4 separate regions of the Homo sapiens genome follow, and all the other regions are linked to region 1. The links come from fine-mapping of genetic effects on gene expression. A gene starts in region 1. Each other region holds a variant in brackets. All regions are shown on one strand. Distances are between the middles of the regions.

The links.
Region 2: its variant is fine-mapped to the expression of AK9 in whole blood (TOPMed, PIP above 0.99). The same link has a PIP of 0.9 or more in lymphoblastoid cells, nucleus accumbens and prefrontal cortex.
Region 3: its variant is fine-mapped to the expression of AK9 in whole blood (TOPMed, PIP 0.98).
Region 4: its variant is fine-mapped to the expression of AK9 in whole blood (INTERVAL, PIP above 0.99).

What each region holds. Positions count from the first base shown.
Region 1 is chr6:109,687,528-109,695,635 of GRCh38, forward strand. It overlaps AK9 (adenylate kinase 9), which reads right to left and starts at 3,675. Exons shown (of 41, transcript NM_001145128.3): 1 at 3,620-3,675. FIG4 (FIG4 phosphoinositide 5-phosphatase) reads left to right here and starts at 3,769. Exons shown (of 23, transcript NM_014845.6): 1 at 3,769-3,974. The coding sequence starts at 3,909. RefSeq lists an enhancer at 3,253-3,722.
Region 2 is chr6:109,631,160-109,639,268 of GRCh38, forward strand. It overlaps AK9 (adenylate kinase 9), which reads right to left. Exons shown (of 41, transcript NM_001145128.3): 11 at 2,025-2,164; 12 at 1,764-1,944. Among named protein-coding and RNA genes, the nearest start is that of AK9, 56 kb to the right of the region's middle. The variant C/T (reference allele first, on the strand shown) is at 3,688.
Region 3 is chr6:109,483,150-109,491,247 of GRCh38, forward strand. It overlaps ZBTB24 (zinc finger and BTB domain containing 24), which reads right to left and starts at 70. Exons shown (of 7, transcript NM_014797.3): 1 at 1-70. It overlaps ZBTB24-DT (ZBTB24 divergent transcript), which reads left to right and starts at 495. Exons shown (of 4, transcript NR_187591.1): 1 at 495-1,688; 2 at 4,787-4,910. RefSeq lists silencers at 1-50, 131-570 and an enhancer at 7,458-8,098. The variant G/C (reference allele first, on the strand shown) is at 4,088.
Region 4 is chr6:109,568,256-109,576,364 of GRCh38, forward strand. AK9 (adenylate kinase 9) reads right to left here. Exons shown (of 41, transcript NM_001145128.3): 21 at 5,187-5,339. Among named protein-coding and RNA genes, the nearest start is that of ZBTB24-DT, 89 kb to the left of the region's middle. The variant A/T (reference allele first, on the strand shown) is at 3,234.

The sequences.
Region 1 (8,108 bases):
ACCACGTGATGAGGAAGAGTGGGTGGCATGTGAGTGCAGCCCCTGCCAACAGCTGGTAAGAAAACAGTGACCTCAGTCCTACAACCACAAAACGATGATGCTTGCCAACAATGTGAATCAGCTTGGGAGTGGATTCTTCCCTAGTCAAGTCTCCAGATGGAAGCACATCTCAGCCAACACCAGATTGCAGCCTTGTAAAACCCTGAGCAGAGGACCCAGGTGAGTGATGCCAGGGCTCCTGGCCATGGAAACCGTGCGATCACAAATGTGTGTTGTTTTAAGCTGCTAAATTTGCAGTAATTTGCTATGCAGCATAGAAAACTAATGTAAGTGGATGTAAAATACATAGATATTTGTATCTCAGAAAGCATCCACCTCAGAAGAGGCACTGAAAAAACCAGGTGGACAGGATAATTTATCCAGTAGACATGAGCCAATCTTTGCTTCTGGTCACCTCAATGCTTGCATAATGGGTTTGTAAATGAAGTAGGCATGGTGGCAGGGATGAAGGTGATGAAGGATAGGCATGGGCTCATATCAAGGCCTCCTTTCACCAGGCTGGTTTAGCTACACTACTGCTGCTGAATGTTCTACCTGTTCATGGCAGAGACCTGTTCATATTAAGCCCTCAATACGGTACAACCCCTTTAGGAGACAAAACATTCATTCAGTGACAAATTGATTACAAATTGAGACCTGTTCATATTGAGCCCTCAATATGGTACAACCCCTTTAGGAGACAAAACATTCATTCAGTGACAAATTGATTACACAGGACCCCTTCACCTTTAAAGGGGCAAGTGACAAATGCTCCTAATATGGGCTTGTTTTTCCTACCTGCAGTGCCTTGGCCAGCACCACTACCTAAAGGTTTAGAGTATGTCTCATTTATCTTCATGAGATCTCATATACCATTGCCTTGGATCAGAGGACCCTTTTTACAATACCACTTTACCTAGAAGCTACTGGTTTGACAGAATGTTGGAATGGTCTCTTAAAGGCACAGCTAAGGCGCTAGCTTGGGATTGTGTGGGATTGAGACAATGTACTTCAAGATGAGGAACATGCTTTGAATCAAGGGCTGGAAGTAGGAGTGACCCCTCTCACTAATACTCTCAGTGATTGACTTGGGAAATTTGCACCTCACTTCTGGACAAGAGGTCCTGGGTCTGGTGGAGGGGAGAGATGGTTCTATCAGGGGACCCAGTAAAGGTTTCATTAAATCTTAAAACTACTGCTGCCACCTGGTCATTTTTGACTCCAAAAGCTCATAAGGAGTTATTGCACTGGCAGATGGAGATAGGGTTGCTGCTATGTGATTGGATGAGATTGGGGGTGCTCAGGGTGGTATGGCCATAAACTGCTAGATAAGTGGGATAGGGGATGCATTTCTTGAACTCAGGGGATTCTCTGAGACAGCTCTTGATGCTTTCATGTCCAGTGAATGGGTAATTGCAGCAACCAAAACCTTACAATGACACAGTAACCAAGGGCTTATGCTCCTCAGGGATGAAAGCTTGTTATCCTACTGGGCAAACACAGACCAGCAGAAGTGTTGGCCAAGAGTAAGGAAAATCTAGAATGATGTTAGAGGAAGGAGATGATCAATTAGAGACCTCAGATTAATTGCAGTAGTGGATTCTGCAGCTTGTCCCATTAATCTTTTTTTTTGTAAGTCCTTTTCTTTTAAAAATTGAGACTAGCCACTACCTTAAAGAATTAGGGTGGCATGGTGTGAACTTGATGTGGAGGAAGAATGGATACGAGTGCTGCAAAGGGTGGAATGTAGCAGCTGCTATTAGTGCCTCCCCCATATCCACTTGACATACACCTTTTCTATGCACGACCAGCCCAACTTCCAAAATGTTAGCATGTGCGACTTTTTGCCTAAGGGCTTTCTCTGGCTGCCAGAACCTACTCTCCCTGAACACAGGGTAGACTGGAAGTTCTAGGGCATCAATGTTCTGCCCTATCAGGCTTCATCCAATAACTGATGGAAGTTGGCGAATAAATACTCCAGCTTCCTTGCCCCTCAAGAGGGGATAACTGAGACATGCCTCCCAGTATTCCCTAGTGAATTCAGCCCACAGAGAAATTTCTCTGGTAATATTTCCTTTATTAGTTTTCTTCCCCTCCCTGCTGCTGTTTCCTGGGATTACGTCTCATATAAACAACCTGCCTTCAAAGTTTTGTCTTAGGATCTGATTCCGGGTGAAATAAACTAAGATAAAGTTAAAATGGAAGTGCTAAACTATAATAATTGAAAACTAGAATCCTTCAGGTATTTTAAGAGTTGCTATCCTAGATAAAAACACTGTGCAAACATTTAACTAATATTCAGAAGAGTTGGTTTCATTATGAAACAGAACACAGCTAACTATTTTTCCCAGTTAAAAGATCCAAGTCCAAAATGCCAGAACGGACACGGCCATCCTTCTAGTTCTTAATAAAAGGAGTACCAAACTACAGGGGGAAAGAAGCGCAAAATAACATAGACTTAAGTATTTCTTTACAATTTTTGTAATTTCTCAAATTTTAATTTACAATATGATCTTTGGTATTACATGAATGTTATCTGGGTATGCTATAATTCTATAATTTTTTTTTAAAGTTTCCTTACACTTAGCAGTTGAGAAGCCCTCTAGCAGAGGTTTCTGAGGTTTAGAGGTTTCCTGGGAAACCTAGAATTGCCGCCTAAGATAGGATAGCTGCCTCTCCCCTACATCTTATACTCTTGCAGTAGGTGTTCAGTAAATATTTGTGGAATAAATACTTCAGTCGTTGAAAGGAGACGTGGTTTTAAAAAGTGGATTTACAAAGAGACCGTTTTGCAAGAAAAGAAGCTGGTCTGGGGGTCCCCGCAGGAGGCGGGGTTCCGTGCAACAGATACCAAGATGCCTCCAGGGCGGACCACGACCCAGCGGGCCGCCGGAAGGCTCCTTACCTGGCCGCAGCCGGACCCTCCTCAGGGAAGCAACTGCCTCCAGGGACTCCGCGGGGCTGTCGGGCGGTTGCCGGGGAGACCTCTGGCCGCCACGCACCTGCTGCTTGGTGGGGCGGGGCCTCGAGAGGCGGGGCTGTAGTTCTTTGTCATTTCTTTTCCAATTCGAAATAGTCACTTTTGTACCTAATTTGGCATTTATAATTATAATACACTCATTTTCACAACTATGGAAGAGAGGGTACGCGCATGCCCATTTATGTCGCACACATGAAATGAAGAAACCTCATTTCAAGCGCGGCTCCGCCACACTGCGCTAGTCTCTGTCGACAACTTCAAGTGGCTAGCCTCACGCACAAACGTGTGGCAAAGCCACACTTTCCAGCTTTAGGTGATTTTAAAACAATTTCTTGGGCCACACAGCGTAGGTACAACATGGATTAGAGGTGAGGGGAAAACTGACACTCAGTGAAGGACCGTCAGAGGGCCGGCTTCCAGGAAAATGGGCCGCAGCAGGCAGGGAAAACACAAGGATCTATCCTGCAACTCGGAGAACCCTTTTCAAAAGAAGCTACCCAATCCCAAACCTTCCGCTTTTTTCCAAAGAGAGGGAGGAGATAAATAGACTCAATTAATCCGTCGACTTTTTCTCCGCCCATGTTTTCCTCCAATCCTTACCAAAGATGGTGCCCTTCGCTTCCTCTCTCGGCAGCACGCAGGTCCCGGGAGCCTCTACCCGACCTCTCTATGATACGTCCTCCAGCCCCGCTCCCGACGTGAGGGGCGGGGCTTGCCTGGAGGCGGGGCGCAGGGATCCGGAAACACCTGATCATCTATAGGTTTAGTGCCTAATGGGTGTTGTTCCTGGCTGGACTTGATGTCCAGGGCCTGAGGGGTTTTCTCGCCGAGTCTCCTGGGGCGGTCCGGAGGCTCGTGCCCTGTTGTGGGGCCCCCATTTGCCGCCGCCATGCCCACGGCCGCCGCCCCCATCATCAGCTCGGTCCAGAAGCTGGTTCTGTATGAGACTAGAGCTGTGAGTACCCCCTCGCGGCGGGGCGCAGGCGGGAGGATGGATGTCTGCCGGTGGGTGTGGGGCCGTAGGACAGAGGCTGTACTCTGCCTCCTCCTCCTTCCTCTCCAGTTCCCAAATCCCTGTCAAACACAGCCTTGGGGTAAGCTAGCTCCCTTGAGCTGTGCCTGGGCGCCTTTCCCCTATTTTGGTACCCTGGACATTGCAGCATTTGCAGGTCCACTTACAAGCCATGGCTGGAACACGCTGGAAACAGGTGCTTGTGGTACCTCAGGAACTGTTCATGAGGTTCTCTGTACGAGTTACTGGATTCTTTTCAGCTTTCAGAAAGTCTGTTAAAGTTCTAGAGTTCACAAGTTACAGTACAGGCAGGGGTATGAAAAAAATTTGAACTATGACTTGTAACTTATTTTTTCCTATTCCATGGTATACCATCACTGCGATTCATGTGAATTACACTTCTATTGGTGAACTTTTTGGTTCTCTTTTTTTCTTATTTGAAAGGAAAGGAAAACTTACTTTGTTTAAAGACAGATAATTTGTTTGGATAACATCTTGCTTTTCACTTGACTTTTTTCAACATAACATTTACTTTTAAAATTTTATTACTTTGAATGGCCATGTAAATAGTGAATAAGCAGATCAGTTTGTATTTCGATTACCAGTTCCTCAATTAAGGGAGAATGGTGTTTATATAACTTCATACTTGGTCCTTTCTGTGGGTGGAAAGCAAAGTTGGTACAGTATAGCTCTTCTAAATTGGGGTGCCACAGTGATATTAGGGACTGTGTTTAATATTACCCATTTCATGCTAACAAGATTGCATATGCCAGATATTTTCATAATGCTCTTCACTATGTTATAGAGTGCTTTATAAACTGTTTCTCTGAAACTTGGGTTGTCTCCATTAGAGGAGTATGAGAAGGCATTTAACAGTTTCTCAGTTATAACGTAGTCCTAATAGCACAATAACCTCTCCCTCAGGTTAACATGAGTAGAGAATTGTGGACCTTAAATTAATTTTGCTGACAACTTTGATTAGATCTAGAGCAGAAAATGACATTATCAAATATACTGTATTTGCAAGTATTTTCAGTTCTCTAATGAGACCCATAAAGAAGTATCATTTGTCATTGAAATGAAACCTATTTTCTGTAAAATATGCTGCTAAATTTCCCTCATTAGAAACATAAATAACTTTTTTTTTTTTCCCTTTGAGACAGAGTCTTGCTCTGTCACCCAGGCCGGAGTGCAGTGGTGCTATCTCGGCTCACTCACTGCAACCTCTGCTTCCCAGGTTCAAGAAGTTCTCGCACCCCAGCCTCCCAAGTAGCTAGGATTACAGGAATGTGACACCATGACCGGCTAATTCTTGTGTTTTTAATAAAAGACAGGGATTCTCCATGTTGGCCAGGCTGGTCTAAAACTCCTGGCTTCAGCCTCCCAAAGTGTTGGGATTACAGGCATGAGCCACCGCATCTGGCCGTAAATAAAACACAAATTTCAGCCCATTAAAAAGCTGATCACTCATGAGGACTGCGTGAGATATTAGTGTTCAGAAAGCACAATTCATATTATAGGGCTCTTCTGCTCAGAAATCTTCAGTGGTCCCAATTCTGAAGCAAGTAAACTCTGAATCCCTTAGTTGGCATTCAAAGCCATGTATTATTTGTCCTCAACTTGTCTATCTAGTTTTACATCTAATTTAATATCAATTAATGAAACATTTATTGAGGATCAACCATGTGCCTTCATATGCCTTATTCTGCAGTAAAACTGTATTGCTTTCAGTTCCCTATATCTGCCCTGTGTTTTTCTGCTGTTCTCTATTCTCTTAATGCCACACCCCCTCTTTTCCTGTCAAAACCTTGCTGATCCTCACAGCACATATCTGGTCATGCCTTGCAAACAGTAGTCTCTCAATAGATGTGGATTAAGGAGCTCTAACACAAAGAGATAGAGGTGTGTTCCAGAACTCAGCTGTGACCCCTCTCAACTGCCTAAGTAATGGAAACTAACTCTGGCCAGCTTAGAGACAAAAGGTAAATTTATCAGAGGGATGCTAGGGGAGCCATTGCATGGTATCCAGCTTCTGGAAAAGCAGGAAAGAGATAACAGGTTTGAGAACCCTCTCAGAGTACTGCCAAAAACAGTGTAGGTGCTGGGAGAAAAAATCTGATCGACTCAACTATGATTGGTTATCATCCCCTGAGTGGACAAATCATTCATGGCCAGGGGGGGTCTGGCAGGAATGATTTAGCTGTGGAATCAGGATCCTCTTTGTTTCAGCAAATGGTTGGGGCTGGGCAACCACCCTTGAAAATGTCTGCTGCATTGAATCACTGAGTCTCGGTTTTGTTAAATAATTTTTTTTTTTTGGTTAAAGATATAAGCAGAAAGGTTTTGTTTTGTTTTGTTTTGTTTTTACTAATAAGCTCAAAGTATAAATAAATAAGAAAAAGGCATAAAATTACAGGCAACTGGATAAATGCTATGAATTAAAAAAACAAAAACTGTAGTAGGTTGTAATAATGAGGATAATAGCTCAAAATATTCTACATATATTTTATTATTTAATCCTCATAAGACCTCTAAGAGATCATGCTGTTAATTCTACTACTATATATATTATTTAGTAAAGAAAAAAAATGAGGCAAAGATAATTTAAGGCAGTTACTTAACCCATTTATGCCAGAGGTTGCAAATTTTTTTGTGTGAAAAATCAGACCTTTGCGATGACCTTGAGCAGTAGGATATAAATAACTCCCACAAGCTTAGCGTTCCAATAACGGAACACTAGGCATAAGGTGTGGTGCAGGTGCTAAGAATGTATACTGGGGAAAGGACAGTCTCTTCAATAAATGGTGTTGAGAAAACTGGATATCCATGTGCAGAATGAAATAAGGCCCTTCTCTCTTGCCATATCCACAGATCAACTTAAAATGGATTAAAGGCTTAAGTGCAAGACCCAAAACTGTAAAACTACCAGAAGAAAACATAGGGGAAATGCTTCAGGATATTGGTCTAGGCAAAGATTTTATGAGTAAGACTTTAAAAGCACAGGGAACAAACCCAAAAATAGACAAATGGGACTATATCAAGCTGAATAGCTTCTGCACAGCAAAAGAAACAATCAACAGAGTGAAGAGGCAACCTATAGAATGGAGAAAATATTTGCAAACTCTTCATCCAAGAAGGGACTAATATCCAGAATATATGAGGAATTCAACAACTCAACAGCAAATACCCCCAGATAATCCAATTAAAAATGGGCAAGGATCTGAGTAGACATTTCTCAAAAGAAGATATACAAATGGCCAACAGGTATATGAAAAATTACTCAAGGTCACTAATTATCAGGGAAATGCAAATTAAAACCACAGTGAGATATCATGTCACCTCAGTTAAAATGGCTATTTTCAAAAGGACAAAAATTATCAAATGCTGGTGAGGATATGGAGAAAGGGAATTCTTATATAGTATTGGTGGTAATGTAAATTAGTATAGCCATTATAGAAAACAGTATGGAGGTTCCTCAAAAAACTAAAAATCCGGCAGTCCCACTACTGGGTGTGTATATGAGGGGATTTCAAAAAGTTCATGGGAAAATGGAATTAAAAGATAAAAATAACAAATGTAAACTTTATTTCTCAAGCTAACTTCCGTCAAGGTCAAGACATTTTTGTAACTAATGATACCAGCCATTTAATTCATCCACAAAGAACCGAGGGTCCTGGGAATTTAACCATATTGGTGCAGTCTTTTTTACTCTGTTAACTAAAGAAAAATGGGTGCCCTTTAAGGATTCTTTTTAAGATGAGGAAACAAAAAGAAGTCAGAAGGAGCAAAATTGGAACTGTAAGGCAGATGCCTAATTATTTTCCATTGAAACTCTTGCAGAATTCCCATGTTTGATGAGAGGAATGAGCAGCAGCATTGTTGTGGTGGAGAAGGACTCTGTGATGGAGCTTCCTGGGTATTTTTCTGCTAAAGTGTTGGCTGACTCTCTCAAAACACTCTCATAATAAGCAGATACTGTTCTTTAGCTTTCCAGAAAGTCAACGAGCAAAATGCAGTGAATACACACACACACACACACACAGACACACACACACACACACACACAATGTTGCCATG
Region 2 (8,109 bases), 56 kb before region 1:
GCACTAATGATAACAGACAAGGTTGATAAATCATTCCTCATTGAAACAAAGAACTTCTGTTTATTAAAAGATGCCATTAGAAAAGTGAAATGGCAAACCACAGAGAGACAGAGAATAGTCCTAATGCTTATAATCAACAGATAACTTGTATATAGATAATATTAGGAACTCTTACTAATAATATACAAAAACACAACTAAAAATGGGCAAAACACTTGAGAAAACACTTCAAAAAGAGAATATTTAAATGGTCAGTAAACAGATGAAAGAGGTTCAACCTCATTAGTCATTAGGGAAATGCAAATTAAAACCACAGTGAGATACTATTATACACTCACTAAAATGGCTAGAATTAGAAAGACCGACCATAGTAAGAGTTGACAGGAATGTGGAATAACAGAACTCTCATATACTCCTGATAGTATTGTGAAATAATGGAACTACTTTGGAAAACAATTTGGCATTATCTACACAAGTTGAACATATGTCCATGTGTGCACCAAGAGACACATACAAGAATGTTTATAGTAGTGTTATTTACTCCAATCTGGAATCAATCCAAGTTTTATTAGTGCTCAAATGTGGATAAATACATTATGGTATAAGTCAATCAACAGAATACAATAAAACAATAAAAATGAATAAACTACAGCTACATTCAATAGTCTGGACAAATATCATAATTATAATGTTAAGTGAAAGAAGCCAGGCACAAAGAAGATAAATTGTTTAGGTCTATAAAATTCAAAAAAACCATGCAAAACTAGCCTATGGTATTTGGATGTATGCTTCCACGGCAAAACCATAGGAGAAGTATGGAAGTGAATGCCATAAAATTCTGGGCAGTGGTTACCTTTGTGTGGAGAGTGAGGAGACTGGTATTGAGAAGAAACATGAGAGGGCGTCTGGGTGCTGGCAACATTCCAGATTTGACCTGGTTGGTGGTTACATGGGGGTTCATTTTGCGGTAACTCAGTGGGCTTCACTTTTCTGTATGTTTGTCATGTTTCACAATGAAAAAGTTAAAAGCAAATAGAAAATGATACTCCGGCGCTTAAAAGAATGCAACAGCACTTTGAACAACTTCTAACACCTTTCTGTGGCCTGAATTGCTCTGTCTTTAGCCATGATCTTGTGCCATTCCTTCTTGCATAGGCAATCCTCAAGCCACATTGCCCCTTCTAGAATTCCTCCACATTCCAATCCCTCATCAAATCTTTCAGCTTTGTCTTCAAATTATATCCCAAATATGCTTGTTTCATACCACTTTTACTGCTATCACTCTTGTCTAAGCTAAAAATAATTTCATTTACTGAGAGTGGAGAACAAGATTACTGAGGGAGGTGTCAAGGTGTTGGGAGGATCATCTTTGTAATACTGAAATCACCAAGAATTAGGACAGGAGTGATTATATGGGGAGAGTGAGAGTGAGCCAGGAGAAGTGAAACCCAGGGGACAGAAGATGAGTAGAACCAAGAAAGCTAATAGGTGGCAGAGTCTGAATGACACGATATTCACATGTGGGAGCTTTTGGGAAGCAGGGAGGGACTCTGGTCTGGAAGCAGCAATAAACAACAAAAAGAATGCCTACCCTACCCCAAGCCCAGTGGAACAATTATTCAATTAAAACATGAAATTTTAAAAACTGAGTACAAATAAAATCCTACAAATTATAATCGAGTATAGATACATGACAGATAGACATAGATAGATAGATAGATAGATAGATAGATAGATAGATAGACAGATAGTTAGTTAGTCACCTTTCCTTTGTAATTTTCTGCAAGCATATTGCAAAGTGTTGTTTTCCCTGAATATTGAGGTCCAAGTATGAATACTTTACATGGTGGTCCTGGCATAGGTGGAAGCAGATAGGGACGTGGGTTCAACAAAAATGGTTTTAATGCTTCTTCTGATGAAAGACAGTAGATTTTACCTAGAAAACTTAAAATATGCCATATTAGTAAACAACTGAAAAGATGTATGAGGAAGATTTAAAATTAAGTTCTGAAAATCTTACTTACCTCACAGAATAATCTGGTAATCCTGAATAAATGTTACCATCTTTTAAATTCACAGGACATGTACGTCCCCATTTACTTCTTTGCCATCTGTATCTTGGTGCAATAAGTTTATAAGATGCAAGAGTACGAAATAGCTCATCCTGTGAATTGCAAATACTACATTAAAAATATGGGCATAAATTTTGCTGAAATTAGGAGCATTAAATATTTCATTTATCATTTTATAGTGCTTTACTATTTAAGAAATAATTTAAAAAGGAAATTTTGGCTTTTTTCTTAATTGCAACATCCTGCACTTGTCCTTGATTTAATAAGACAGTGTAGAACTAGTTTGAACTAGTTGAAAATTACAGGACCCTTGTTTTACAAAGAACTAGTTTACATTTATGTTAAAAAATCTTTAAATTCTACTGAGCAATTTCTATCATATGGTAAAATAAGCATAAGGTAGATAGCGCATTTTCTATCATCTTCCTTAGAAAACAGATTCTGAAAAATTCTTATTAAAAATTTTGGAAAATGTACCAGATTCTTAGCTAATTTACCTTGGCTTTCACATATACCTAAGATGTTATGTACAGATTGTTTTTGCATTTACTTAGCTATAAGCAGTTCTTTAATTCTTAAAATTTAAAGTCTCCTTCATCAGCAATCCTTTCTGTTGGTGACCTCCAGATAAGTTAAGAAATACTTTTCTACAGACTGCAAAATTCTGTAGAAAACTGCTAATTCTCAGTTGGGAACATGCTTATTTTATTTTATATTTATGCTTACTTAACCATATGATAGAAAGGTTGCTTGAAAGGTTCATCTGTCCTTGTGGTTCCTTACCAGGGGATGAGAAAACTGGTGAGAGATGGCATGGTGAGTATTATGGTTTGAATGTCCCCTCCAAAACTCAGGTTGAAATTTAATTGCCATTGTGATGGTATTAAGAGGTAGGACTGTTAAGAGGTGATTAGGTCACGAGTGCTCCGCCCTCATGAATAGATTAATGTCCTTATCTCAGGAGTGGGTAAGTTATTTTGAGAGTGGACTTATTATAAAGGCAAGTTAACCCCTCTTGCCCTGGCTCTGGCTCTTGCACTCTTTTGTTCTTCCACCTTCCACAATGGGAAACACAGCACAAAGGCCCTCACCGGATGCCAGTGCCATGCACTTGGACTTCCCAGGCTCCAAATAAACTTATTTCTGTGAACCAAATGAACTTATTTTCTTTATAAATTACCTAGTCTGCGGTATTCTGCTATAGCAAAAGAAAATGAAGAGAGTGGGCAATGGCGAGGGGAAAACTGCTCCCCCCAACCCTCAGATGTGGGTCACACATGATATATGCTTGCTTCAGAGTTGACTATGCAATGCAGATGAGATTGTGAGCTATGATCTTCCATGGACCACTGCAGCATCAGAGAACAAAGAGGCATGTGCACTGCAGGGATACTGCATGAATGTTCCCAAGTGAGAGCTGGAAGTGATAGTAAATATTAAGGAAACTGTCAATGCTTAGGAGAGTTGTATAAGACTGAGAACCTCATCCATGGAGCACATTAAGCTACAGGCCTTCTCCACAGGGTTCCTGGACAATGAGCTAGGGACTGAAACCATGCCCAGTTAGGTCAGGAGGCAGTCTCTCTTTCCTTATCATCCATATTTCCCACCCATA[C/T]ATGAAAAAAGTATTTGAATAGACCATAAGTATTCTCTAAAAGGTTAAGTATTTGAATAGCAGACCATGTTCCTCTCTCAACTTCATGCCCATGGGGCCACACGTTCAGCAGGTGCCGAAGGGAGAAGAGAAGATGAGCTTTTGAATGAATTTGATATTACAGGCTTAAAAATGATCAGGACTGGCTTCTGGTTAAACAAAGCAGACTGAAAACATGAATTTATGTTTGCTGCTTCCTAAAACCTCACTAAAATGACAGTAGAAGAATAAAAAAAAAAGAAATAAACTCATGAGGACGCAGAGAATGGGAGAAGAGACTAGAGGTGCTGATCAAGGCTGACAGCTCACCAGTTACAGCTACACAGTTTTGTAAGTTAGAAAGCAGATGGATGAGTGGTAACTGACTTATATCAGAGATAGGTGAAAGCTAAATATCTGTAGAGCAAAGATAGGTATGGGAGGGGTAAGAACAACAAGGAGTCAGTGGATTCACTTTGCAAAACCCTGGAAAGACATGGGACCTTGTGATACCAGGTACCTCTGAAGGGGAATGAATGGAGAGCAGAAAACAGTGTAACTGGTTGGAAATCTTTGAAAGAAGGTGCTAGTGCCAGAGCCACTCCTACTCCACTTGGTCCCCTCCCACCACTTCTCTCCCAGTGAGAAGACCAGAAGCATACTTTCTGGAGCCACTTAACCAGAGGAGCATGTGAGGGACCCCAGACACAGCCAAGGTAGCGGGGCAGGGGCAGAAGAAAGTTGGCCACTATAACCACTACCCTCAAGCTCTACTCCTACCCATCCTCTTGCTGAAGAAACTCTGGACCTTTCCATGGTCCAGCAACTAAGGGTTAATGCCTGGCAAATGTCTTCAGCACTTCTGCCAGCTCTGTTGTGATTGGGTGAATGCTCTTGCACCACAAAAACTAATTTGCCAGGGCCAGAACAAAATGAAAATTACAGGACCCTTGTTCTACAATTATTAAGAATTTCAGGACTGCAGCAGCAGAGTATTAAACTAAGCACATGGTCCTGTGTGAAGTTCATGAAGCCAACCCTGCCCCTGCAATGCAGCTGTTAAATTTTTAAAATATCACCATTGGTTCTAGGCACTTTAAAAGCATAATCTCATGTAATCTTTACAATAATACGATGCCATAGGGATTGTTGCTCCTTTTTTAATATATACCATTGAATAAAGGGCAGCAAGGTTAAGCAGAGTCACAGGTCTGATAGGCTGTACCGCTGAATTCAAATCCAGGTCTGTGTGACTCGAAAGCCAAAATTTTTACTGTGCTAGGTGCCAGTCTGACCCTGTCCTTCCTCCTACTGCACAAACCCATGCCCATGTCCTCATCTACCTGCACAGCCCCTCCTCTCCTGCAACTCAGCAGATGCTATAGCTCTCTCACTCTTCACCAGGGAGCTGGAGTCTACAGTAAGGTCTCTGTGGCTTTCCTACCCCTTTAAACCAGTGGTTCTCTTCCTGAGCTGCATAGTAGAATCTCCTAGGGAAGATTTTTGGGTTTATTTTTTGTTTTTTTAATTGTGGCAAAATACACATCCCATAAAATTTGTTTTTGTAACCACCTTTAAGCATACAATTCAGTGGTATTAAGTATATTCACTGTGTTGTGCAACCACCACCTCTATTCATTTCCAGAACTTTTCCATCATCCCAAACAGAACTCTGTACTCATGAAATAACTCTCCTTCCCCCCAGCCCCTGGTAACCTCTATCCTACATTCTGTCTCTATGAATTTGTCTATTCTGTGTATCTCGTATAAGTGGAATCATATGTTTGCCCTTTTGTATCTGCTTGTTTCACTTAGTATGTTTTCATGGATCATATTTTATCATATATAAGAATTTTACTCCTCTTTAAGGTTGAATAATATTCCATCACACACACACACACACACACACACACACACACCACATTTTATCAGTTCATCCATTGATGGACATTGGGTTATCTCCACCTTCTGGCTATTGTGAATAGAGGTGCTATAAATATTGGTGTACAAGTATCTGTTTGAGTTCCTGGTTTCAATCCTTTGGGGGAAATGCCTAGAAGTGTAATTGCTGGATAGATGAGAATTCTATGTTTAACTTTTTTAGCAACCACCAAACTATTTTAAACAGCAGCTGTACCATTTTACATCCCCACAAACAATGCAAGAGGGTTCTCATTTCTCCTCATCAACATTTGTTATTTCTCATTTTTTGAATAATAGCACCCCAATGGATATGAGATGGCATCTCATTGCAGTTTTGATTTGCATTTCCTTAATGGCTAGTGATATTGAGCATCTTTTCATGTACTTACTGGCTATTTATATATCTTCTTTAGAGAAATGTCTATTCAAATCCTTTGCCCATTTTTGAACTGGATTTTTTTACTGCTGTGGAGTTGTAGTTGTTCTTTACATATTCTGCATAGTAATCCCTATCAGATATGTGATTTTCAAATATTCTTCTCCTTTCTGTGGGTTGTCTTTTTACTCTATTGATTGATGTGTTTTCCTTTTTTTTTGTAGAGATGGGGTTTTACCATGTTGGCCAGGCTGGTCTCAAACTCCTGGCCTCAAGTGATCTGCCTGCCTCAGACTCCCAAAGTACTAGGATTACAGGCATAAGCCACCATGCCCGGCTTCTACTGATAGTGCTGATGCAGAAAAGTTTTTTTGTATTTTTCTTTTGTAGTCTCTGCCTTTGATGTCATATCCTATTTTGTTTTGTTTCACTTAATGACAGAGCCCTACCCTAGAAATTCTGTTTTAACTGGCCTGGGCATTGTAATGTTTAAAAAGCTTCCTAGATGACCCCATTTTGCAGTCAGGGCTGGGACCCACTGCTTTAAATATTTCCATTATATTGATTCTCTAAAAATCACCTGCCTTTAGCTGAAGATTATTCATCTAAAGTCCTTTAAAAACACAAGAACTTGTATATTAATCAACTTTAATTGACCAGGCTCCTTTGGTGTCCCAAGAGTTAAAGCAGTGGTTCTCAGACTTAAGTGGGCATAGGAATTTGTTCTAGATTTTGTAAAAATACATTTTCAGGTTCCATCTCCAGATAGTCTGGTTCAATCAGTCTGGGATTTGGGCCTCAGGGATTTGTGTTTGTAGTAAGCTTCCCAGGTGATTCTTTTGGAGGTGGTCTGGACTGCCAGGTAGAAATGCTGCTTAAGGGATATGAATAATGACTCCAGCATACACAGCCACATCTTCCCTTTTATGAAAAAGGAGGCAGGTTCACCTAGTCATACAGCTTATGAACTACAACCTTACACCTATGCCCCATGCATGCAATGCTTTCTAAGGACAAACTTTCTGGCTCAGAAATTTCCTGCAGGTTTTATAGATACTTTTTCTCTTTCCTTCATTGATGACCTAGAACAGGAGGCCTCAGTACTCAGTTTATTTTTCCCAGCCTCTGTTCTGACCAAGCCCACTTTTCTTCCTCTTCAGCACCAGTTCATATTGCAGGGGTCCCAGCACATATCCCAGTTATGTTGACCCACTGAGATCTTGTTATGATACAGGATAACAAAATGACCTCTTTCTTCAAAGATTTTAAAATTTGAATTATGTCTATTTATGATCCTGGCATATGTTTTTGTTTTTTATTTTATTTTTATTTTTGAGACAGGGTCTTGCTTTATCACGCAGGCTGGAGTGCAAGTGGCACAATCATGGCTCACTGCAGCCTCAACCTCTAGGCTCAGCTGATCCCCCCACCTCAGCCTCTCAAGTAGCTGGGACGATGGGCATGTGCTATCACGTCTGGTTAATTTTTTAAAAAAATTTTAATTATACTTCAAGTTCTAGGGTACATGTGCACAATGTGCAGGTTTTTTACATAGGTATACATATGCCATGGTGGTCTGATGCACCCATCAACTTGTCATTTACATTAGGTATTTCTCCTAATGCTATCCCTCCCCCAGATCCCCACCCCACGACAGGCCATGTTGTGTGATGTTCCCCGCCCTGTGTCCAAATGTTCTCATTGTTCAATTCCCACCTATGAGTGAGAACATGCAGTGTTTGGTTTTCTGTCCTTGCCATAGTTTGCTGACAATGATTGTTTCCAGTTTCATCCATGTCCCTGCAAAGGACATGAACTCATCCTTTTTTATGGCTGCATAGTATTCCATGGTGTATATGTGCCACATTTTCTTAATCCAGTCTATCATTGATGGACATTTGGGTTGGTTCCAAGTCTTTGTAATTGTGAATAGTGCTGCAATAAACATAGGCGTGCATGTGTCCTTATAGTAGCCTGATTTCTAATCCTTTGGGTATATACCCAGTAATGGGATCTCTGGGTCAAATGATATTTCTAGTTCTAGATCCCTGAGGAATCACCGCACTGTCTTCCACAATGGTTGAACTAATCTACACTCCCACCAA
Region 3 (8,098 bases), 200 kb before region 1:
CCCGCCCGCCTCTGGGGCTTCTGCGCCGCACCGGTTTCTGCTCCTGCGCCGCCGCCGCAGCCACAGCCACAGCCAACCCGGAAGCGCGGCGCCAAGAGCCGCTTGCGCGCGGACGCCGAACCACGTGGCCCGCAGAGGCGCCCCTGGAGGTGGGGGCCACGAGAGCGGCGGGGAGGGGAAGGGAGGTGAGGGGCGGGGCGGGGCGAGATGGCGGGGCGGGGCGGGGCGGGGCAAGGCGGGGCAAGGCAGGGCAAGGCGGGGCGCGAAGGCAGTTCAAGGGTTGGGGCGTGGCAGGGGAGGGGAGGGGCAAGGCGGGGCGAGAATGCAGGCCTGGGGTCGGGGGAGCCGCGGCGGGGCGGGGCAGGGCGGGGCGAGATGGCAGGCCCGGGGCTTTGGGGCCGGGGCCGGGGCCGGGGCCGGGGCAGGGCGGGGAGGGGCGCGGCTTCGGAGGAGGGACAGTGGCCGGGGCGGGGCGCGGCCAGGGGCGGGGCGGTGTCGGCGCCCGAGGTCCTGCGTGTGGCACTGCCGGGGAGCCCAGGCAGGAGCGACTTTTGCGGTGAATTGGGGGCAATGGACAGGAGAGGCGTTGTGACCCCTCCCTTTGGGAAGTTTTATATCGTATTAAACTGTTAGCTCAACGCCAATACCTTAATTTTATCTCTTCTCCGACACCGAATCTGGTGTTGTTCTTGAATGTATAAAGGCATGAAATCCCCCTTACCGTCATCATCATTGTCATCATCATCACCATCGTCATTATCTAGTGCTAATATAATAACTATTACTTACCTCCTAAATGTTTTTCACATCTGCCTCCTTTTCCTCCCCACTCCTGATGCCTTAGTCTAAGGGAATGAAGAGAGCACTGCAGTCAGAGAAACCTGGGTTCTGAGAGATCTTGGGCAAATTACTTACCCTCACAACTTCTTTACCTTACCTGTAAAATGGAGATGTTAACACTAGTGCCACTTTGGTAGGGTTGCTATTGCATAAACAAAATTAAGTATGTAATGGGCTTAGGAAATGCCTGGTTTAATTCGTCTGCTGTGATTAAAATGATCATTATTATTCAAACTTTCATCATCTTTGTTCAATAGACTGTTTCTAACTGGTCTCAGCTGCAGCGTTGTTCTCTTTAATTCGCAGAAGTACAGAGGATTTCTCCAAGTACATATGAGATCCAGAGACTAGAGTCACTCCTTGGCTTAGAATCCATGTGGCTCCCACATGCCCTCTGGATAAAGTCCAGGCTTCTTAATGTGGTCTACAAGCCCCATCCAGATCTACTCCCCACCTGCTTCCATCCATTTATTTCAGCATTTTCTCTCTCTTAGCCAATACCTAATTACTTATTTTTCTGCCCATTTCCAGATTCCCAACATGCCATCTATAGCCTCCCTGATCTTGAACCGGAGGTGTAATTAGCAACCTGGCTCTTACATTTTTACTAGATTTTATTAAAACTAGCTCAAGCCACACATGCTCCTTCTCTGAGGTTTCCCTTTCATATTGAATTGTCTCTAAGTCCTCTGGATTTGTGGGGGTACAAGTGGGATGGGGAGCGCTCCCTGACTTCTGCATACCAGCAGGAAGTTAGCTACCTCATTGTTTCTTGCTGCTACGAGGGTTGCAGTCAAATCACTGTCCCTCCAGAGGTCCTCAACGGCATAAGAAGACTCAGTGCCAAGGTAAGCCAGGTACTTCCATTTCCTCATTCAATCATTGCTCACTGGAGCATAATCCTGCGAGGAAAGACTGAGTCTGGAGGATCTTCCAGCATCAGCCACCCACAACACAGACTAGCCCTTTCTTCAAGGCAATTTTGTTTTGGATCCATACTGACTTTTTCAAAACTTTTGTTCTTGTTAAGGCCAGCCGGTCTACCCCTAACAGGTCTTCTTAAATTTAAATCTTGCAGAACAGGATTTGGGGTGTCATACATTCATCTAACAGATATTTATCGAGTGTCTACTAAGAGCCAGACATTGGCGTCAGGTGTTGGGGATACAGCAACTAACAAGGCCTTTGCTCTCATGAAGCTTACATTCTACTAAGGGGAGACAGGACAAATATACAAGTAAACTAATGAATAATAGTTTCAGAAAGTGTTAAATTTTATAAAGAATGATGATGGAGACTGACAGGGAAGTGAAATCAGGATAGGGTGACATTTGAGCTGAGATCTGAATGACATGGAGACAGCTGTGGGAAGATCTGGAATAAAAATGTTCTAGGCAAGGGAAAAGCAAGCATAAAGGCTCAGACTGGGAAGGAGCATCTGATGAACGGCAAGGACTGTGTGGCTGGAGCACAGTGAGTGAGGGGCAGCAGATGGAGTGGAGAGTTGCCAGATTTCACAAATAAAGACACAGGACACCCATTTAAAAAAATAAATGCTGCCTCAGCCTCCCATGCTGGGATTACAGGCATGAGCCACCTATACCCAGCCAACAAAGAATTTTTTTTCATATAAATTTAGTGTAGCTTAGAGCGTACAATGTTTATAACGTCTACAGTAGTGTATAGCCATGTCTTAGGCCTTCACATTCACTCACCACTCACTCACTGACTCACCCAGAGCAACTCCTATTCCTGTAAGCTCCATTCATGGTAAGTGCCCTACACAGGTGTACTTTTTTTTTCTTTTATACTGTTTTGTTTTGAGACAAAATCCCACCCTGTTGCCTAGGCTGGAGTGCAGTGACATGATCTCAGCTCACTGTGACTTCTACCTCCTGGTCTCAGGTGATCCTCCCCACTTAGCCTTCTGAGTAGTTGGGACTGCAGACATATGCTACCACACTCCACTATTTTTTTTTTTCCGTATTTTTTGTAGTGATGAGGTTTTGCCATGTGGCCCAGGCTGGTCTTGAACTCCTGGGCTCAAGTGCTCTGCCCACCTAGGCCTTCCAAAGTGCTAGGATAACAGGCATGAGCCATCAGTATACTGTATTTTAAGTGTCTTTCTTATGTTTTGATATGTTTAGATACAGAAATACCACTGTGCTACAGCTGCTTACAGTATTCAGTACAATAACATTCTGTACAGGTTGGTAGCACAGGAGCAATAGGTTGTACCATAGAGCCTAGGTGTGTAGTAGACTATACCATCTAGGTTTGTGTAAGTTCACTCTGTGATGTTTGCACAGTGACGAAGTCACCTAGTGATGCATTTCTCAGAACATATCCCTGTCATTAAGCAATGCATGACTGTACCTATAAAAGAAAACCAGTTAAAATGACAGCTGGTTTCTCAACAGCAATAGTAGAAGCCAGAGGTTAGTGGCATGATACTTTCAAAATTCACCTAAAATCTTTTTTATAGACTACAATTATCATGGAAAAGGACAAAATCAAGACAATTTTGGTCAAACAAAAAATAAAAGTATTAACCTCCAACAAACCCATACCATAGGAAGGAAAATAACACCAAGAGGAAAGTCTGAGGTATAAGAGGGAGTTGTAAGCCAAAAAAAAAAAAAAAAAGAGAAAAAAGTAAGTATGAAGGAAATCTAAACAAACATTGATTATGCAAAATAATGTCTAATTCGGAGAGTAAACAAATAGAGTAGATCTAAAATATTGAATGAAAATACCATTTAAGATGGGAAGCTGGTTATCAGTATTCCAGTGTTTTAAGGGTACAGCTATTGATTACCTTGAGGCTTTACATATACATGGTGAAAGAGTAAGGGACAGCCACTTAATTGGTACAAATAGAGTGCATACTTCAAACACTGTAGAGGAGATAATGGCATTTCAAAGTTATTGGTCAATGCCAGGTCGGGTGCAGTGGCTCATGCCTGTAATCCCAGCACTTTGGGAGGCCAAGGTGGGCGGATCACTTGAGGCCAGGAGTTCAAGACCAGCATGGCCAACATGGCAAAACCCCGTCTCTACTAAAAATACAAAAATTAGCCGGGCGTGGTGGCACAGCTACTTAGGAAGATGAGGCACGAGAATCTCTTGAACCCGGGAGGCGGAGGTTGCAGTCAGTTGAGATCATGCCACTGCACTCCAGGCTGGGCGACAGAGCAAGGCTCTGTCTCCAAAAATAAAAAATAAAAAAAAATAATAAAAAAAAAGA[G/C]AGAGAGAAAGAGAAGGATGGAGAGAATGTTAAAGGCAAGAAGAGCCAGATCATGTAAAGTCTTTTATGCCAAGAAAAAGGAGTTTCGATTTTAACTGAAATAGGAGGCCACTGGAAGATTATTCAAAAGGACTGTTGAATCTGACTTATGTATTTAAAAATTACTCCAGCTGCTAGATGAAGAGTAGATCCTGGAGGGACATGAGTGGAGGCATGGATATGAGGGTGACAGCAGTGTAAAATGTAAGAAGAGCCCATATTCAAGGTAGATTTGGGGGATAGGTCTTTCTGAGAGGACTTGCTGAGAATAGATGTGCGGAGTGACGGAAACAATGCAATCAAGATTGACTCCTGGGTTTGGGGCTAAATCAACAGAGTGTACGGTGTTACCATTAACTGATCTGGAAGAAGAGAAGTTGGGTTGGATAACAAGTATGGGGTGGACATATTAAATTTGAAATGTTAACTAGATAACCAAGTACAGTAGGCAGTCATAGGTAACAATCTGGAGTTCAGAGCTGAGAACAGAATTGAGATATTAATAATGGAGTTATCAGAGCATAGATTATAAATTGTTGTAAGTAAGATCAGTTACAGAGTGAATATTGATAAAAGGCGATCCAGATTTTTTCTCTTTCCTCTCCAAATGTAGTCTCCATTCTTCTCTCCTTTTTTTTTTTTTTTTTTTGGCCCTGGGAGGCTACAGGGACTCAAGGACTTCATCATCAAAGTCCTGTGCCGGCTAGCTTCCAGTTGTATTGAGTCAATGGAGAATCTGGCAGATTGGAGGAAGGAGAAGGTCATGATCATCTGGCAATTAAAGGTTAGTGGAAGTCCTTTGTCATGATGAAGGGCATCAAAAATATGTGTGTAGCCTGGGATGGTTGGTTGATAACTGTGGCTGGAAGGAACTATAGTCCAAGGCTTATTATGACTTAAAGGGATTTGGGGAGAACAGAAGGACAATTGTCAATGTTCAGTGCCAATAGTGCATCTTTAGAGGGATTTTATAGCACTAATCCAGTAGTGCTCCAATTTCCAGATCCCATGTGTCCTGTACTACACAAGGGCAGGGCATGTATCTGCTTATATTTTAATCTCCTACTGTACACAGACTGGTAGAATTCTTGTAAATATACACATGCTTGCATATGCTAAGCAGTCTTCAACATGCGTCTCACAGGTTTGGTGAATACGTGTGCTCACAAATTAATTCTTGGAATGTTTTTCACCCCCTGGTTATAATCTCAAATTTGACTTATTTTTTTAAAATTTTACCTGCTTTGATTTTAAAAAGTCCATTTAATTCAGGTGTCACTCCCTCTGATAATTCTTCCCAGAACCACCCATAGTTAAGGGCTCTCAGGCTTTGTAGCTTGATATTCTTTAACCCGGATCTTCATTTGTAAAAGTAAGAACAAACCAAAAAAAAAAAAAAAAGAAAAAACGAAAAAAAAAAATCACCCACAACTAGACAAAGGCGTTCATGTGTAAAATATATCTCTCATTCCTATCCTGTTCTTTCCGTTTTTTTTTTGTTTTTTTTTTTTTGAGACGGAGTCTTGCTCTGTTGCCCAGGCTGGAGTGCAGTGGCCTGATCTCGGCTCACCGCAACCTCCGCCTCCCGGGTTCAAGCGATTTTCCTGCCTCAGCCTCCCGAGTAGCTGGGACTTCAGGTGTGCGCCACCATGCCCAGCTAATTTTTGTATTTTTAGTAGAGATGGGGGTTTCACTATGTTGGCCAGGCTGGTCTCGAACTCCTGACCTTGTGATCCACTCGCCCTGGCCTCCCAAAGTGCTGGGATTACAGGTGTGAGCCACCGCGCCCAGCCTATCCTGTTCTTGAACTTCCTCCCCTTCATCACTGAATTTGTGAAATTTTAATGAATTGCCTGAATTCAACAAATTACCAAATGAATTGCAAATAAAGTGAAAAATATATAATAAAATTGAGAACGTTTAAAAAATATAGTATTTATTACTGTACTTTGAGTTTTGAAGAATTTAAAACCACAGTTCACACCATATCCTGAAATAAATTCTAGAGGACTTAAAGAATTAAATATATATCTTTATTTTTATTTATTTATTTTTCCTTTTTTTTTTTTTTTTTTTGAAATGGAGTCTCGTTCTGTCGCCCAGGCTAGAGTGCAGTGGCGCGATCTCGGCTCATTGTCAGCTCCGCCTCCCGGGTTCACGCCATTCTCCTGCCTCAGCCTCCCGAGTAGCTGGGACTACAGGCGCCTGCCACCATGCCCGGCTAATTTTTTGTATTTTCAGTAGAGATGGGGTTTCACCGTGTTAGCCAGGATGGTCTCCATCTCCTGACCTCGTGATCCGCCCGTCTTGGCCTCCCAAAGTGCTGGGATCACAGGCGTGAGCCACTGCACCCGGCCAAATATATATTTTTTAAAACACAAATAAGTAAAATAAAACAGAATGGAATATTCCATTTCTAGAGATTGAAGAATTTCCAGAGCTTAGAAGACTATTCAAAATCAGCCTGGCCAACATGGTGAAACCCCATCTCTACTAAAAATACAAAAATTAGCCAGGCATGGTGGTGGGTGCCTGTAATCCCAGCTACTTGGGAGGCTGAGGCAAGAGAATTGCTTGAACCTGGGAGACAGAGGTTGCAGTGAGCTGAGAACACACCACTGCACTCTGGGCGAAAAAGCGAGGTTCCATCTCAAAAAAAAAAAAAAAATTAGAAAGCAATGATGAACATGTTTTATGTTAATACCTAAAAAATGGAATATATGTACTTCAAAAGGTTGATGTCTATATTACATAAAGAACTCATGCAGAACAACTTTTAAACGCTGCATAAGTTAGAGGGCAAAGGATGTGATAATAATTCACAAAAGAGAAAATGCAACTGGTGACCAACATATGCAATAATATACAATCTCACTATTAGTTCAGATTAAAGCAAAAAGGTTCTGCTTTTCACCCATTAAAGAAAAAAAAAATGTGAAGATACTGCCAAGTGATTGTAAAGAAGTATTGAAATTGGTGTTCTTGGGTGCTCCTGGAAGCAGTATAAATTGCTGTAATTATTTTGGAAAGTTGCTTGGTAATATGAATTGTGAATATCCATTTAAGAATAGTCATGCCCTTTAACCCAGCAATTTTATTTCTCAGAATTTATATCAGGCTAATAATCCTAAATATAAGAGGGAAAGATTCAACACAGTATTTTATTTATTTTTAAAATTTTTGTAGAGACATGCCCAGGCTGGTCTCAAACTCCTGAGCTCAAGTGATGCTCCCACCTTGGCCTCCCAAAGTGCTGGCATTACAAGCATGAGCCACTGTGCCCAACCTCAACGTAGTATTTTAAAATTTAGTACAACAGTACACAGTCCAGCAATAGGAATGGTCAAATATAGCGTATCTATTCAGTGTGGATCTGAGTGTAACCGTTAAAAAAAAAAAAAAAAAAAAAAAGGAAAGGAAGTACTCCAAAATCCTTTTCCTACTTTTCCACATTTCATTTACTGTTTGACTTAGGATCTGTCAAATGGAGACTGCTTCTCCTTCTTGGGTGAAGTTATTGTTGCTGTGAAAATGACATCTAGACAAGCCATGGAGAGGCATAGGCTGGTTGGAGTTTCCCTTGCCCTTAAAGCTGCACTGCCTCAGCCTCTTCCTGAAGCAGTCAGGATTGGGGCAGCAGCTGGAGGATGGGGGTGGGCAAAAAGGAGTCTCTCTCAGCCTCAGTGAGCACCGTGGCCTGGCCACCCACTCTGTTATTGTTTCACATAGGGAAGGTTTAAGGGTCCCTGGACACCCATTCAGAATATTCTTTCATCATATTTGGGACGCTAGTTAATGGATTATTTGTAATAATATGCAAGCATAATTTCTAAACAAAAGCAGAATTTCAATAAGAAGCTTTAAAGGATACATGTTCTTATTGCAGAAATGTTGTTCTCCCTTGTTAGGGACACAGACCCCTTGACATGGAAAACACAGCTTGCTCCCCTGAGAAGGAAAGCAAACATGATA
Region 4 (8,109 bases), 120 kb before region 1:
CTAGTTATTGATGAGACGTATCTAAAAATAAAAAGAGCTATCTATGACAAACCCACAGCCAATATCATACTGAATGGGCAAAAACTGGAAGCATTCGCTTTGAAAACTGGCACAAGACAGGGATGCCCTCTCTCACCACTCCTATTCAACATAGTGTTGGAAGTTCTGGCCAGGGAAATCAGGCAAGATAAAGAAATAAAGGGTATTCAATTAGGAAAAGAGGAAGTCAAATTGTCCCTGTTTGCAAATGACATGATTGTATATTTAGAAAACCCCATCGTCTCAGCCCAAAATCTCCTTAAGCTGATAAACAACTTCAGCAAAGTCTCAGGATACAAAATCAATGTGCAAAAATCACACGCATTCCTATACACCAATAACAGACAAACAGAGAGCCAAATCATGAGTGAACTCTCAATCACAATTGCTTCAAAGAGAATAAAATACCTAGGAATCCAACTTACAAGGGATGTGAAGGACCTCTTCAAGGAGAACTACAAACCACTGTTCAATGAAATAAAAGGGGATTCAAACAAATGGGAGAACATTCCATGCTCATGGATAGGAAGAATCAATATTGTGAAAATGGCCATACTGCCCAAAGTAATTTATAGATTCAATGCCATCCCCATCAAGCTACCAATGACTTTCTTCATAGAATTGGAAAAAACTACTTTAAAGTTCATATGCAATGAAAAAAGAGCCCGTATTGCCAAGACAATCCTAAGCCAAAAGAACAAAGTGGGAGGCATCATCCTACCTGACTTCAAACTATGCTACAAGGCTACAGTAACCAAAACAGTATGGTACTGGTACCAAAACAGAGATATAGACCAGTGGAACAGAATAGAGCCCCTGGAAATAATACCACACATCTACAACCATCTGATCTTTGACAAACCTGACAAAAACAAGAAATGGGGAAAGGATTCCCTATTTAATAAATGGTGCTGGGAAAACTGGCTAGCCATATGTAGAAAGCTAAAACTGGATCCCTTCCTTACATCTTATACAAAAATTAATTCAAGATGGATTAAAGACTTAAATGTTAGACCTAAAACCATAAAAACCCTAGAAACAAACCTAGGCAATACCATTCAGGACATAGACATGGGCAAGGACTTCATGACTAAAATACCAAAAGCAATGGCAACAAAAGCCAAACTTGACAAATGGATCTAATTAAACTAAGGAGGTTCTGCCCAGCAAAAGAAACTACCATCAGAGTGAACAGGCAACCTACAGAATGGGAGAAAATTTTTGCAATCTACCCATCTGACAAAGGGCTAGTATCCAGAATCCACAAAGAACTTAAACAAATTTACAAGAAAAAATCGAACAACCCCATCAAAAAGTGGGCAAAGGATATGAACAGACACTTCTCAAAAGAAGACATTTCTGCAGCCAACAGACCCATGAAAAAATGCTCATTATTACTGGCCGTCAGAGAAATGCAAATCAAAACCACGATGAGATACCATCTCACACCAGTTAGAATGGCAATCATTAAAAAGTCAGGAAACAACAGGTGCTGGAGAGGATGTGGAGAAATAGGAATGCTTTTACACTGTTGGTGGGACTGTAAACTAGTTCAACCATTGTGGAAGACAATGGGGCGATTCCTCAAGGATCTAGAACTAGAAATACCATTTGACCCAGCCATCCCATTACTGGGCACATACCCAAAGGATTACAAATCATGCTGCTATAAAGACACATGCACACGTATGTTTATTGTTGCACTATTCACAATAGCAAAGACTTGGAACCAACCCAAATGTCCATCAATGATAGACTGAATTAAGAAAATGTTGCACATATACACCATGGAATACTATGCAGCCATTAAAAAGGATGAGCTCATGTGCTTTGTAGGGACATGGATGAAGCTGGAAACCATCATTCTCAGCAAACTATCACAAGGATAGAAAACCAAACACTGCATGTTTTCACTCATAGGTGGAAATTGAACAATGAGAACACTTGGACACATGGTTGGGAGCATCACACACTGGAGCCTGTCGTGGGGTGGGGGAAGGGGGGAGGGATAGCATTAGGAGGTATACCTAATGTAATGACGAGTTAACGGGTGCAGCACACCAACATGGCACATGTATACACATGTAACAAACCTGCATGTTGTGCACATGTACCCTCTATAGAACTTAAAGTATAATAATAATAAAAAAAAGAAAAACCACCTATAGAATACAACATGCACTATTTGAGTGATAGGTATGCTAAAACCCCAGACTTCACCACTATATGTGATTCATCCATGTAACCAAAACCCACTTGTACCCCTAAAACTACTGAAATAAAAAAATTTTTTAATGCATTAGGAGAGAGGCAATAAGGTGGAGAAGGTAAACCAGTGACATGGAGGATAACAAGTCTCTGAAGAATCCAGAGAAAAAGTACAAAGAGATGAGAACTATCAGGAAAAAGAAGATTAACGTGGTTGAGAAACAATAGTTATCTGACCAAAAATAATAAATGATCCTGAAAAAGGAATCTGAAGCAATAACTGAAGAAAGGCATTTTGAGCTAGACAAAGATTGTGATATGAAGACAAGAAGAGCTCAATGAATTCCCGGGTAAATCATTCACATACCAGCAAAGTTTTAACAAATAATGGCATTGAAAAGGATCCTTTGAGCACCCCTGTAGGAAAAGAACGAAAAGAACAGAAATGAGGGAATATCTTGACTTTTCCATGTGTAGAAGACAATGAAGCAATGTCAACATGAGGAATTCTGAGAAGAAAAGGTTATGACAATGATTTAATAGCCTCTAAGTTGTTTTATATATGTGAAAGCAATAGATTTGCAGAAAAATTACAAAATATGCCACGCTGGATCCTTAAAAAGTTGCTCAAAGATGTAGACCAGATGACTAAGAGATGAATCAAAATTAAAATCTCAAGAATAGGGTCATGTGGAATTTGGGAGAAATCCAAATGGAATTATCATTATCCTAATACCACATAGCTACAGAAATCCACAGCCTGTTCTAGTGGACTGGACAAAACTGGCCACACTCATGAGCATTCAACAATGTGGAGAAGTTATGCCTCTTTCCAAAATGCTATCTGAAGGAAGTTTATAAACAAATAATTTCCATATAGTTATTGTTTATTGAAAATAACTCTCTTGTAGGACTTTAAAAATGTCCGAGAGGAAACCTTTCTCTCAAGCCGAAGTCTAATTGGATCACAGTTAGATAAAAACAAA[A/T]CAAAACACCATTCTTAAAAAAGCTAAAAGGAAATACATTAGAATGTTAAGTATCATTGCCTTTTGTTGTCAGATCAATGATGATTTCCCCCATCTTTCTATTTGTATAATTTCTGTATTTTCTATAGTTAGCACATATTTTTATCAAACCTGGATGGATGTATGATTTTGAAACACACCGTTCAACATCAACTGTATCAAAACTACGATCACTGTCTTTAATAGACATTTTTCAAATTTCTATTCAATATATTCATTAATTTTGACCTGCAGATACAGTGTACAGCCAAATGATTCTAGAGTTTTTATTTTCAGGATCAGATTTTTCTCAGGTATGCTACTGTGCTTTTTCCATGATATAAGGAATAATTGACAAAACTTATTTTTCAGGCAGAATGTTTTTCCTATAGCAGTAGTTCTCAACTGTTAGTATGTATAAGAATCACTGGGGTGTTCATTAAAATGTAGATTCCTAAATTCCATCCTAGACTTACTGAACCAGAGCCTGCATAGAGCTCAGAGGCTTACCTTAAAATAAGAACCATAGGTGATTCTGATACAGCTGATCTACCACCTATACTATGAAACAATATTTCTCTTTTATGTGAAACTCTAAAGTCTCAGTTAAGCATTTAAGAATTTGAGCAGATGATTACTTATTTCTTGGGTGAAATAATGAATGTGCGCCTAGGCATTCCTGCAACCTGCATCTGTGGAAAGGCAGTATGGTAGATACTGTTGGTTGGCTCCCTCAACCCCCCTCTCGTCTTCTATTCCATTGGCTTCTACCATCTAGGCAAGGAAGCCAAGTCCAAATTAAATTCCCAGATTCCCTGCAAGTAGGGGTAGATGACGATACAATATTCTGCTCAATGAAATGTAGGTGAAAGTCTCTGTGAACTATCTATTTCTTGAATTAGAAATAAAAAGTAAAAGCTTGCAAGAGGAGACATTGTGTCTGGATGCAGCAGCCACCTATGGATCGTGAGGATGGAGTCAGATACTGGAGAGAAGTACAGGAGGAAAGAAGATGCTTGGGGCTTCAATATCTTTTTAAGTGAACAAACCAGCCTGGGGCTCTTAGATATGCATAATACTTAATATACTTGTCAGAATGAAACACATGCACATATGAGCTGTGAAATATGAATTGTGTAATTTTCATTAATTTCCCTTAGTCTTGCTTCTTTTATAAGCTCACAGCAGTTCCAGGCCCTTAACTGCTCCAGACTAGCATCCAGTTACAGGTATCTGAAGACCTTTTAGTTTGTAGGATGAATTTCAGATTCAATACTAACTCTGCTTGAAAGCATTTGCAAGCCTCATTCCCACCACAGGTGGGTACCCTATGTTCCTGCTTTAAGCCCACTCTCTAGTCCTTGGAGTGGTTTTCATTGCCTATAGACTCCTTCTTGCCTTGCCCCATCCACCAAATGAGACCTCTGAGGTAGGGCTTAAAGAGTTAATGCTCTCATATTAACATTTAAAATGCTCTTATATTTGCATTTAAAAATGGCATTGCACACCATAAAGATGAACTGTAAAATTCATGCTAATAATTTAAAATTTTAATTTAATTTTTCTTTACTTAGAGCAACATTAAATAGCAAACAAAAAAATAGCATGACAAATTGAGAGACAGACTATGGAAGAAAGGAAAAACCGTTATATTTTACTACCTTTAATGACACTTTTTTCCTGCTTTTTGAACAACATGCCCCACAAATTACATAGCCAGCTGTGCTCCTGTGTGCCAGTGCTGGGGCAGAGCAGCCTCTGCTTTCCTACCACACTTCAAACTGTGGGATTTGGACTCAATGGCTGCTCTCTGGGGGCTCATCTCTCCATTCTCAGCCAGCTTCCATTTTACCAACAGGTATACATACACATACCCAAACAGACACATTAATGCACATGAGTAGAATTAAGAACTTGCTATCAATAAAGTCTAACCTGCTTCAGGCTCAGTTTCAGGGACCTCAGATGCTTCAAACTCCTCAGGTAACCATGACCCTCGGGTATCGTGAGATGCCTCAGGCTCTTCGTGAACTTCCAACTCATCACCTTCAATCTCCTCTTCATCCTCATTATCAGTCTCTTCAGCTTCTAAAAAAATTTGAAGAAATAAATTATCATTTGGTTGAAGTCAACAAATATTTATTGGGTGTTGATAAGTGCTGAAGCCAAACAAAGAATATGAAATGGTCCCTGCCCTCCTAGAGTATGTAGTTTAATGGGGGAGATAGAAAAATTATCTATTTATTATAGCTATTCACATGTAGTGGTAAAGGATGATAGTCATCTGCTCAGAGTTCTGTATGAGTACCAGACTAGGGGTTCATTCAAAAATGAAATGTTTGTGGCAGTTCCAAACATCCTTACAGTAAATCTAGAAATAGCCCAATGTCCAAAGAAATGGCTACATCAGCACCATTCAATATAGTAGCCACTAGCTACATGTGGCTATTGAGTACTTGAAATGAGGCTAGTCCAAATTGATATATACTGTAAGTATAAAACATACAGTGAATTTTAAAGATTTAATATGAAAAACTAAATATAAAATATGTGACTTTTAGAAAATTTAAAGTTCCATGTGTGGCTTATATTATGTTTCTAATGGGTAGCACCAGGTTAGATTATATATATAATGATTGATTTTCTTACAGCTAACTAAAAATAATAAATCATGTAGTATATTAATCAATATATTAAATGTAAATACAAAATACAAAAATTAGCTGGGTGTGGTGGCACACACCTGTAGCCCCAGCTACTCAGGAGGCTTAGCAGGAGAATCGCTTGAACCCAGGAGGTGGAGGTTGCAGTGAGCTGAGATTGTGTCACTGCACTCCAGCCTGGGTCATGGAATGAGACTCTGGCTCAAAACAAACAAACAAACAAACAACCCAGAACTAGTAGCCGGTTTAATAACTACCACAATTTTGGAACAGTGATAAACATATAAAGATATGTAAAACTATAATGTGATATGAAAACATCTTCATTTCTTTTGGTGACAAAGTCAAAGTATTGCTAATATTATTGTGGTTTGTTGCCTATATTAATTGCACATTGAAGGAAATAATAAATTTCAGTTAAATGTTAGTGAAAATAAATTCGGAATTATTTTCCAATTAAGTTCACACACCCCTGAATTTTACCCATAGACCCTAGGTTAAGAACTCCAGTCTTTTTTTTAACATCTGTCTTATCTTTTTAAAATTTTTTTATTCCAAAAGTTTTTGAGGAACAGGTGGTGTTTTGTTCCATGGAAAAGTTCTTTGGTGGTGATTTCTGAGGTTTTGGTACACCTATCATCCAAGCACTATACACTGTACCCAATGTGTAGTCTTTTATTCCTCATCTCCCTCCCACCTTCCCTGCAAATTCCCGAAGTCTATTATATCATTCTTATGCCTTTGTGCCCTCATAGTTTAGCTCTCACTTATAAGTGAGAACATACAATGTTTGGTTTTCTATTCCTGAGTTACCTCACTTAGAATAATGGTCTCCAACTCCATCCAGGTTGCTGCAAAAACCATTATTTCATTCCTTTTTATGGCTCAGTAGTATTCCATGGAATATATATATATCACATGTTCTTTATCCACTCGGTTGATGGCATTTAGGCTTGTGCTGCTATAAACGTGTGTGTGCAAGTGTCTTTTTCAAACAATGATTTCTTTTCCTATGGGTAGATACCCAGTAGTGGAATTGCTGGATCAAATGGCAGTTTTATTTTTAGTTCTTTAAGGAATTGCCATAGTGTTTTCCATAGTGTTGTACTGGTTTACATTCCCACAAGCAGTGTAAAACTGTTTCCCTTTCATCACATCCATGCCAACATCTATTATTTTTTGATTTTTTAATTATGGCCATTCTTACAGGAGTAAGGTGGTATGTCACTATGGTTTTGATTTGCATTTCCCTGATAATTAGTGATGTTGAGCATTTTTTCATATATTCGCTGGCCATTTGTATATCTTCTTTTGAGAACTGTCTATTCATGTTCTTAACCCACTTTCTGATGGGATTATTATTTTTTTTTCTTGCTGATTTGAGTTCCTTTTAGATTCTGGATATTAGTCCTTTGTCAGATGCGTAGTTTGTGAAGATTTTCTCCCACTCTGTGGGTTGTCTGTTTACTCTGCTGATTATTTCTTTTGCTGTGCAGAAGATTTTTAGTTTAATTAAGTCACATCTATTTGTCTTTTTGTTTTTGGGTTCTTGGGCATGAACTCTTTGCCTAAGCCAATGTCTATAATAGTTTTTTGATGTTATCTTCTAGAATTTTTATGGTTTCAGGTCTTAGATTTAAGTCCTTGATCCATCTTCAGTTGATTTCTGAATAAGGTGAGAGACAAAGATCCAGCTTCATTCTTCATTGTGGCTTGCCAATTATCCCAGCACCATTTGTTGAATAGGGTGTCCTTTCTCCATTTTATGTTTTGTTTGTTTGTTTTTTTCTTTGTCGAAGATCAGTTGGCTGTAAATATTTGACTGTATTTCTGGGTTCTCTATTCTGTTCCATTGGTCTATGTGCCAATTTTTATAGCAGTACCATGCTGTTTTGGTAACTATATCCTTGAAGTATAGTTTGAAGTTGGGTAATGTGATGCCTATAGATTTGTTCTTTTTGCTTAGTCTTCCTTGGCTATGTGGGATCTTTTTGTGTTCCATTTGAATTTTAGGATTTTTTTTCTAGTTCTGTGAAGAATAATGATGGTATTTTGATGGGAATTGCATTGGATTTGTAGATTGCTTTTGGCAGTATGGTTATTTTCACATGCTCATGGATTCTACCCATCCATGAGCATGGGATGTGTTTTCATTTGTTTGTGTCATTCATGATTTCTTTCAGCAGTGTTTTGTA